3 separate regions of the Homo sapiens genome follow, and regions 2 and 3 are each reported to be linked to region 1. Evidence: microRNA targets listed by miRTarBase, many of them from high-throughput screens and not tested one by one. Region 1 holds a microRNA gene; each other region holds the end of a gene's coding sequence.
The links. Region 1 holds the annotated microRNA hsa-miR-6787-3p (UCUCAGCUGCUGCCCUCUCCAG, at 1,798-1,819, opposite strand). A microRNA usually pairs through its seed, bases 2 to 8, with sites in the 3' UTR of a target mRNA and lowers its output. Matches are read on the target gene's strand: a 7mer-m8 pairs with bases 2 to 8, a 7mer-A1 pairs with bases 2 to 7 and ends in A, and an 8mer does both.

Region 1 (3,334 bases):
CCTCCTCCTCAGGGGAACCAAGACTTAAGAGGCTAAAAATAGCAATGGCTTTGTGGAGTTTGGGTTTCGGTTGGTGGCAGGAGTCACGCTGGTCCCCACGGAGTCCCCCTGAGGCTTCCAGTCGGCAGCCCCAGAAGCCCTACTGTGTTCAGTACCAGCCCTGTGCCCTGGCCACCGCGGACTCCAAGACATGAGCCCTCCCCAAGCCCAGGACCCCCTCGCCAGGCAGGCGGAGCCTGGGCAAGGCTGCTCCAGTCAGAACTTAATTTCCCTCACGTGTTAGCTCAGTCATCCTTCAAAAAGGAGAGGCCCCAAAATGCAAAAGCCGGCTGTTGGGTTGCCTGGAGCTGCCGCGTGGTGCCCAGGCAGAGCCTGGAGGAGCTGCCCCCCCCCGGGCCCAGCCCCTAGCCACCCTGCCTGTCTGGACACACTGTGCCGGACGGAGCACCCCACTCCTAATGGAGACCCGCTAGCCCCAGCAGAATCAGGGTTGGTCCAGCACAGTGCACCCCCTCCAGCTCTGAGTCCCACACTGCGGGTGGCTGCCGAGGGGTGCGCGTCCCCCCCCTCGCAAAGCGGGCGTCTGACGGGAAGGGCAGGTGTGGGGAACTGCCTGGGGGCGCAGCGCTCACCTCCCGAAGGGGGCCCGACGAGCACGGCCACCGCCTCCATCAGCAGCACCAGGCCAATGGCACTGGAGAACTTGTGGGTGCCCACGATGGCCATGAGCACCTCGAACTGCAGGGCCCCCACCATGCCGTAGGAGATGCCAAAGAAGATGCAGAAGACCACGAGGCCGCCGTAGTCGCCCGCCGTAGAACCCGCCAGGTCCGCGAGGCCGTTGAAGAACATGGAGAAGCTGAAGAGGTAGACGGAGTAGGGCCGCACCTTCCCAAGCCCCGCCACGAAGCCCGCGGCCGGCCGCGCGAAGATGTCAATGAAGCCCAGGATGGTGAGCAGGAAGGCGGCCTTGGTGTCGGGCACGCCCAGGTCCTTGGCGTAGCTCACCACGAACACGGGCGGGACGAAGAGCCCCAGCACCATGACCGAGGCGGCCACGGCGTAAAGCACAAAGCCGCGGTCCCGGAAGACGCTCAGGTCTAGCAGGCGCCGGGAGGGTCGCGGCGGCCCCGAGCCCGGCTGGGCCGTGACCACCAGGGGCCTCATGAGTGCGGCACACACGCAGCAGTTGAGCAGCAGGCCGCCCAGGATGAGGAAGCCGCCCCGCCAGCCGTAGCGGTCCTGCAGCAGCTGCCCCAGCGGGCTCAGGGCACACAGGAAGACAGGGCTACCTGCTGCCGCCAGCCCGTTGGCCATGGGGCGCCGCTTGCTGAAGTAGCGGTTCAGCATGATGAGCGAGGGCTGGAAGTTGAGTGCCAAACCCAACCCTGGAGGAAAGGGAATGTGGTGAGAGCCCCCCAAGGCTGCCCCAAAGCCCGAGACCCTCATCTCTGCCCCCAGGTTCCCACAGGCTCAGGCTCCCAGGGTGCAGAGCCCCTGCCACCCACCCACTCGAGAGGGGGACAACGAGGTGGGGCCGGGACACCCCGCAGCCACCCGCCCTGCTGTCCTCCAGAGGCCTGGACCCAGGAGCAGAAGTGCACGGCCCCTGCCCCTCCTGGCACGTGCGGCCCACCGGCCGGCCCCACTCACCCGTGATGACCCCAGTGGTGAGGTAGACCTGGATGATGCTCCGGCAAAAGGACGCAGCCACCATGCCCAGCGACGCAAAGAGACCCCCCACAAGCATGACGGGCCGGCAGCCAAAGCGGTTCACGCACACACTGCAGAGCGGACCTGGAGAGGGCAGCAGCTGAGAGGGGCCGGGCCTGCAGCCAGCTCTACCCCCGCCAGCCGACTGAGCTCACAGCCTGGAGCCGGCCTCCCCTTCCCACACCACCCCTCCCCCCGCGGGGCACCAGGGGCACCCCGTGGGCAGGCTCCCCGAGCGCAGGCCATGATGACACGTGAGCGCCGCCTGCTGGGCCCCTTGGGTCCCTGCAGCTCAGGAACAGCCACCTTTTCAGGAACGGCTCTCAGGAGCCTGTCCTCTGAGACGGTCTATAAATACAGCCGACCCGTTTGGACAGGGGCCAGGATGGACTTCGCGCCCTGCCTGGGTTGGCCCCGTGGAGAGCATGTTGCTGCCCAGCAGGATCCTGGCCCCAAGGGCTTCCCTCCAGGGTTCCCTGGGGAGCAGGCGGAAGGCCCTGTTGCTGAGCCCAGCTACACGCGCCCAGCAGGATCCGCCAGCAGAGCCCCGGACAGGGGGCCCGGTGTGAGGCCACCCTCACCTGTCCCGTAGAGCATGGCCAGCAGGATGGAGGAGATCCAGGCTGTGTCGCTGTAGCCGATCCCAAACTCCTGTATGAGCTCCTTGAAGAAGACACTGACGGCCTTGGGGAAGGCGTAGGAGAAGCCAGTGATGACGAAACAGCCGAAGAGCACGGCCCAGCCCCAGCCGCCGTCAGGGGCCTTGACGCCTGTGGGGCCCTCGTCCACCACGGCCCCTCCCATGGCCAGGAGGGTTGGTTCCGCCTCACCTGAGAGAGAAAGCAGGCTGACTCAGGCTGCCCGGGTGACCATCCCAGCTGCAGCCTGGCAGGGGAGGGACACGAGCTGGGTGGCCCGGCAGCTCAGCTGAGGGGCAGCTGCCCGGCACCCACACTTGTGGCCCCCTGACCTGGTGTCTGGTGGAGGCAGGAGGGTTTGGAGGGAGGCTAGCAGCTGTGGGTCCCACTCCCTCTGCACTGCCTCCTGCACCCTCACAGCTGGCTCTAAAGGGCAGTGGCTTTTTTGGGCTCGGCCAGGACTCAGATTACCTCCTGGGACAAGCAGCCCCCGACAGGAACATCGACCTGGCCGTCATTTCTGCCCTGGCTCGCTCTGGCTGACCCGTGCTGGGCAGGGACCACGCACACCATGATTCTGGCAGCAGACGGCACCTCCGGTCCCCAGCACTGAGCTCGCCCCAGGACCTCTGGGGTTGGCATCCTCCAGGTCTCTCCCGGTCTAAATCTAGGTGGAGCGTGCCTTGCTCTGGCTCTCCTGCCCCCAAGGGCCCACTTTGGCTTCAGTGGAGCCCACCAGGAGCTTGCCCAAGAGGAGGCGGGCAGTCTCTGGCGGTGAGGGGCTGGGCCCCAGGCTGGAGGGGGCAGTTGGAAGCACAGGGGCTGCAGTATTAGAGTGGGTGGGGTGGGGAAGTGGGGGCAGAGCTGGCCCCTTGTCCCTGGATGCCCCCTTGCCTCCCACCGGCCCTCTTGCTCAGTGACTCCTCCAGTGAGATCTTGACTCACCCCACCTGTGCCTGGAGTGACCCATAGGCTGCAGCCTG
Region 2 (3,000 bases), not on the chromosome of region 1:
TGGAGGTCGTGGGGCCGGAGCGGGAAGATGCTCCCCAGAATCGGGTTCAGGTCAGACATGGTGTGTGCCTGCCCCTCCTTGCCCCCCCACACCCCGACACCTGCAGGTGAGGACTGACCTCTGCAAGGAACGAGTCCTCCGCCTGGCTCACGTCTGTCTGTGAAGACTGATTCCCACAACCCGCCCGGGCCCCCCAAAGGAACAGACGAGCCACGGCCAGGCCGCAGCACTGAGCACAGAGCTCAGCAATAACCAGGGCCAGGCTTAGGGGGCACAGGGGGCTGCCTGCCATCAATAAGTTAGACATACATCGCACCTTGCCGTCCTCACGCAGGGAGCCCCTGGGCACTGCTCATGTGCTGCCTGGGCCCTGCTGCTCAGAACACCAAGGGCTCCCAGTGAGGGCCTGGGGAATTGCCTGGGCACACTGGGGCCAGGCACAGGGTCTGTTCTGAATTCAGGGAAGGTGAAGAGACCCCACCTCTATCCAGCTCAAGCCCAAGAACAAGGCAGACAGAGCTGTGGACAGCACCCGACCACAGACACGGTTCTGCCTGCTGCTGGAGTGAGAGGCCTGGTTTCTGAGGCTGCAGCATGGCACTGGCATTGCCTGTGCTACAGATGGGGACTCCTGCGAGTCTCACAAATACAGGGAGAATTTCAGTTCACACAACCCAAGGGCCCTGTGTGCAGAGCGGCCCTCACACGCGCACAGCAGCATTCAACAGAGCTGGGCAAGGGAAGGGGAGAGAGAGTCAAGGATTGAAATGAAGGGACTTCAAAAAGAAGGAACAAACTAAAAACCCAACCCACACACAATACTGTTAATAAGCCAGCGACTCTACACACACACTCCTTAAATAATAAAGTGACAGGTCCCGGCTGGCCCCGCAAGACCACCGCAAGAGGGGGTCCCGCCACCAGAGGGGGTCCCGCCTGCCACTGCACGGCTTTCCTCCCTCTATCTACAGGACAAACAAAACACGGGAGAGGGGAAAAAGCCCACATTTTCTTCTTGATAAATGCTGTTCAAAAACCCATGAAGGACTCAAAGTGACATGGTGGTTTAAAAAAAAACCTAAATGATCAACAGATGTTGCTTTCTATATTTTTCCTTTGTTCTGTTTGAACTGGGCTAAGTAAGCACAGTTAGACCCTGCTGTTCACTTGACCACGTCCTAAACCCGGGACAAGTGAGCACTCATTCATGCACAGCAGACCCGGAGGCATGGGCTGGGGCAGCACAACTGGGTTCCCGCAGCGCCCTGCCTGCAGGCTCATGCTGGAGGCCACGGAACCAGGCGGCACAGGGCAGATTCTGTTTGTCAAGCGCCCCACAAGCCTTGCCCAGATTGTCAAGCTCAGCAGCGAGAATGGTTTTGACGAGGAGGATGGAAACAGCATCTGCTCTGGAAGCCGCTCTGGCGTGGGGAGAGTGGGGAGAGGGTGCGCTTGCTGCAGCTGCTGCCTTAGGAGGCTCCTCTGTGGCCAGGCTTCTGCCTCCCTGCACCCTGAGGGACCATTCGGGTGCCTCAGGGATGCCCTTCCCTCCCAGGGGCACTGACAGCACTGGCTGAAAGGTCTGAAGAGCCAGAGGAGGAGCCCTGCTGGCTGGCCCAGGATGGGGCAAGGAGGGAGGGAAAGCCAGGGGATGGGGAGGGACATGAGATGGAGTTTAAGGCACACAGCGAGCGATGGAGGAGGGAGGTGCTGGCCTCTCCCCTCTGAATTAACTCCCCCAGGAGCTCAGCTCTGGCCTCAGTTTGGTGAGGTTCAGAAGACTCCCAGCAATAAAAAGTATTTCTTGGATGATCAAGTCCTCCCTTACTCCAGCCTCCTCTTCTCAGCTCCCCAGGTGGTGTGGGAGGGGCCCAGTGGCCTGGGGTGGGGGGTAAGGGGCGACGGGATGACAGAGACTGCTGCTGCTCTCAGGCGGGCAAGGGAGGCCCTGATGGCGCCAGTACCGCGGGGCAGAGCACCAGCTGCGGGGCTGCTAAGGCGTCACCTGCGTACCTTTCCGGGCCTGCTGAAAAGCTCACACCATCCTCCATGCATCAGAAGGGGAAGCGGAAAGTGAAAGGATCCTCCCCCGAGTCTACTCTGCATTCTGCCCACCCAGCTGCTTGCCCCCATTCCAGGGCCCCTGCAGGACAGGCCACCCCAGGAGGCCTCCACTCATTTGAGATTTCAGAAGATTCAGGGACCCTGGAGCTTAGGGAGGGGGAGCACCCACCACTTCCTTGGTCTGCTGATGAGGTCTCTGCTGCTCTCTCCCTGGAGGGGAGTGGGTGGAAGGTCAAGAGGGGAGAGATGGAAGTAAAAGCAGAAAACAAAACCAAACCAGAAAACCACCGGTTTGTAAATTGGCAACAAGACCTGCCTGCTGGCTGCCCTGAGGCCCACGGGTCTGCTCCCACAGAGGAAGGAGGCAGGAAGCGGCTGGCAGGCTCCAGCTCCCGCCCGGCCCCGCTGAGGGCTGGCCAGCCTCATGGCTCCGAGGCCGGGACTCCTGCCATGCGCCTAACAGGTCCAAGGTCCTCTCCGGTCTGGGAGCTGCCCTCTGCGCCCCTCGAGCATTCTCCTGGATCCCGGCGTCTGCTCCTAGGTCTTCTCTTCCCGGTCTGTTTTTCTCCTTGTTATGTTCCTGGGTTTAATTTTCAGAGACAGTTCCCATAGGGCCTCCTCAGCCAGGTGGTCACTGAAGTCATTGAAGAAGTTTATAATGTCGTCGTTCCTCCGCATGTCATAGTGCCTGGTGCAGGGGATGGGGAGCAGTCAGTGAGCACCTGTGTGGGCTGGATGGCCCGATGGCGCCACCCTCCTGGAAGGTGCCGCGGGGACCATCCCCACAGCCTCGCAGCAAACGGATGCTGCAGGGGCTACCGTTGACCAATGTGACAGAGGGGACACCAGTGCTCAGAGACGGTGCCACCAGCACATGGAGCACAAACAGGGCCCTGAGGCTGGGCTGCTCACAGGGAGGGGGCCCCAGGTGATCCC
Region 3 (3,334 bases), not on the chromosome of region 1:
AGACCCCCGCTTCCAGTGCAGGTCAGAGACAGGCCGGGAGGGCTTTCAGGGGAGCCAGGGCCTTCTCCAGGCACTGTCACCCTGCTGTCCTGACCTGAGGGAGAAATGGATGGAGGGTTGGAAGGCCTTGCTGAACAGGCAAGAAGATTCTATGAGGTGCCTGGCTCAGGAGGACACGCCACTATAATAATTCTTTTTTTTTGAGACAGAGTCTTGCTCTGTTGCCCAGGCTGGAGTGCAGTGGCGCGATCTCGGCTCACTGCAAACTCCGCCTCTCGGGTTCACGCCATTCTCCTGTCTCAGCCTCCCAAGTAGCTGGGACTACAGGCGCCCGCCAACACGCCCGGCTAATTTTTTCTATTTTTAGTAGAGACAGGGTTTCACCGTGTTAGCCAGGATGGTCTTGATCTCCTGACCTCGTGATCCCACCCACCTCAGCCTCCCAAAGTGCTGGGATTACAGGCGTGAGCCACCACACCCGGCCAATAATTCTTACCTCTACAAGCTAGTGGGGGGCAAAGGTACACCCAGGACCCAAGGAACTATCTATTTAGAACTGAGGGGTTTCCCAAGGACTATGGGCATGGCCAAGAATAAGCTGGTGAAATCAGATCCAGGGACTCAACAACTGATTCTCTGTTTCTCTCTCTCTCTCTCTGGGGTATCCCTCCCTCCCACCCCATCTTCCACAGTCTCTGGCATCTCTATCCCCTATGAGGCACCACGTAAGACCTCCTGCCCTTAGCTCTCTTGCTCACCACCCAAGAACCTCAGGACAGAAGCGAGAGCCCATTGCTCCTGCTCAGCTCAGCCCGGCTGCGGAGGAACCCTTGGCAGGCAGAACCTGGAGGTGTCAGAGGCTCAACTCCTCCATCTAACCAGCAGGCTCCCAGAGTCCCCGGAAGAGCCTGCGCAGCTGAAGCAGAGTGCTTCTAGATGGAGAGTGGTCACTGGGGAAAAGGACCTGGCCATCACCTTCCAATACCTGCTGCCTGTCTCCCTGACCCATGATCTGGCAAGTTAGGCACAGTCAGACATGGACAGTTGATCCATGAGGAAAAGATGCTCTCCCACCTAAGGCCAGGAATCTGAGAGCAGGACTGGCTGAGCTCCCAGGGCAAGGGGTTCACTAATGCTTATCAATAAAGAATATTGAGCCTGGAATCCTGACCTTCAGTCCTTTACTGTGGCCCTGCTTTGACTGGCAGTCCCTAGCAAGTTAGGAGATGAGAGAGGCACCACTACAGCTCTTTTCCTTCAAGAAAGTCCTAGGCCGAAGAGGGAGGAGACAGTCATCTTGAGACGGATCAAGTCCTCGGAAGAGCTGAGCGACCTCTGGTGCCCCCTGGTGGCCCACAGGGAAACTACTCATGACTCACCTTCTGGAGCAGCCAGGGAAAACCTACCTGACTAGCCAGCCACCTGCCTTGCTAAGCGGTGCCCACCTCACAAACATGGGTGCTTTGCCAGAGAAGGACCCCTGGGGTCCATAGCTCATGAAGTCCAAACATATCTATACATTCCCAGCAAGCACCTCTGGCTTCCCACATCGGGGGCCACCTTGATCCAAAGCAGGGCTGGCGAGGGTCTCAACTTGCAGGACCTGCTCAGACATGACCATCATCTGAGGGGCTTTGGTAAGAAACTGATGGCTGGGCGCGGTGGCTCACACCTGTAATCCCAGCACTTTGGGAGGCCAAGGAGGGCGGATCACGAGGTCAAGAGATCGAGACCATCCTGGCTAACATGGTGAAACCCCATCTCTACTAAAAATACAAAAAATTAGCCAGGTGTAGTCCCAGCTACTCAGGAGGCTGAGGCAGGAGAATGGCGTGAACCCGGGAGGCAGAGCTGGCAGTGAGCTGAGACCGCATCACTGCACTCCAGCCTGGGTGACAGAGAGAGACCCCGTCTCAAAAAATAAAAAAATACAAAATAAAGGCTGGGCGCAGTGGCTCACGCCCGTAATCCCAGCACTTTGGGAGGCCGAGGGAGGTGGATCAGGAGGTCAGGAGATCGAGACCATCCTGGCTAACATAGTGAAACCCCGTCTCTACTAAAAATACAAAAAAACTTAGCCAGGCCTGGTGGCGGGCACCTGTAGTCCCAGCTACTTGGGAGGCTGAGGCAGGAGAATGGCGTGAACCCGGGAGGCGGAGCTTGCAGTGAGCCGAGATCGCGCCACTGCACTCCAGCCTGGGCGACTGAGCAAGACTCCATCTCAAAAAAAAAAAAAAAAAAAAGAAAGAAAAAAGAAACTGATGGTGCTGGGGGATGGAGGAGAACTGGCTGGAGCCAGAAACAATGCCCAGGGGACCCAGGGTCAGGGTATGACATGGAGAATAGAGTCAGTAACCGCTTCTATAGTGTTACCTTCATCTACTGTGGCAGCCCTCTATCCTGGGGGTAGATGGAGGCAGCACTAGTAAGTTCTTGGAAACAGGCCTAGAGGGCAGCTAAGTGGCCTGTGTAGCCCCCGTCTGAGCACTGATCATGTCTCAGGTACTTTAAATGTATTACCTCGAATCCTCCTAAAAAACCTTCCAGGTAGGTTTTACTGAGGGGGAACTGAAACTAAGAAAGGTTAAGTAAAGTTGCCCAAAAGCACACAGCAGGCAAGAGGCAGTGCAGTGACCAGGGGCCACTTGCATTAACCTCTTCCAGACTATGCCATACCTCCTGCCCAGCTGCTAAGCACTCACTATGTGCCAGGCACCAAAGGTCCCCTTGGGGTATTACTAATGGTCAGGAGATGGGCAAAAACAAACACGTAAGTTAATTATGACAGGTAGCAGTCAGTAGTAAGCAAAATCAGAGTTGGGATCAGAAAGGGTCCAAGGATGCCAGGGGCGCTATGTTAGAGAGACTGGTCAGGGAAGGCCCTCTGCTAAGGTGGCATTTGAGCAGAGACTTGAAGGAAGGAAGGGAGCAAGGTCTGCATCTGAGGGTTCCAGGCAGAAGGAGCAACAAGGAGAAGCTTCCTGAGGAAGGAGTGTTTCCAGCCTGCTCCAGGAAAGGCACTGAGGAGGCCAGTGAGGCTGGGGGCCAGGGAGTGAGGAAGGGTAGTGGGAATTGAGGGCAGACAGGCAGCGGGCTGGTCCCTAGGGCCATGATAAGAAACTGGATTTGATTCTGAGTGAGAGGGGAGGATACTGGAGGGCTTGAAGCCAATAAATGACAGAGTCAAGCTTATGTTTCGAAAACATTACTCTGTTGGTGGAAAACAAGATTGTGGAGCTGGGGAAAACAGAGGTAGCAAAACCACTCAGGAGGCTACTGAAGTTGGCCTCATGAGAGCTGAGGGTGATCTGGACCAGCGTGGGGAGGTGGACTG

Region 2: the mRNA of RAPGEF1 is a reported target of hsa-miR-6787-3p. Seed matches in the 3' UTR shown: 8mer at 1,842-1,849 and 7mer-m8 at 1,746-1,752.
Region 3: miRTarBase lists POLD4 as a target of hsa-miR-6787-3p. Seed matches in the 3' UTR shown: 7mer-m8 at 1,323-1,329 and 8mer at 1,861-1,868.

The regions. Positions count from the first base shown.
Region 1 is chr17:82,235,192-82,238,525 of GRCh38, reverse strand. MIR6787 (microRNA 6787) reads right to left here and starts at 1,858; the gene lies at 1,798-1,858. SLC16A3 (solute carrier family 16 member 3) reads right to left here. Exons shown (of 5, transcript NM_004207.4): 2 at 2,295-2,543; 3 at 1,654-1,797; 4 at 633-1,388. The coding sequence starts at 2,517. RefSeq lists enhancers at 496-1,267, 2,092-2,281.
Region 2 is chr9:131,576,896-131,579,895 of GRCh38, forward strand. It overlaps RAPGEF1 (Rap guanine nucleotide exchange factor 1), which reads right to left. Exons shown (of 27, transcript NM_001377935.1): 27 at 1-2,752. The coding sequence ends at 2,602. Among named protein-coding and RNA genes, the nearest start is that of PRRT1B, 33 kb to the left of the region's middle. RefSeq lists enhancers at 2,044-2,093, 2,124-2,253, 2,454-2,533.
Region 3 is chr11:67,349,378-67,352,711 of GRCh38, reverse strand. POLD4 (DNA polymerase delta 4, accessory subunit) reads left to right here. Exons shown (of 4, transcript NM_021173.5): 3 at 1-21; 4 at 693-1,940. The coding sequence ends at 717. The region is part of intron 2 of LOC100130987 (a long non-coding RNA gene); the gene reads right to left. Among named protein-coding and RNA genes, the nearest start is that of POLD4, 2.5 kb to the left of the region's middle. RefSeq lists an enhancer at 1-486.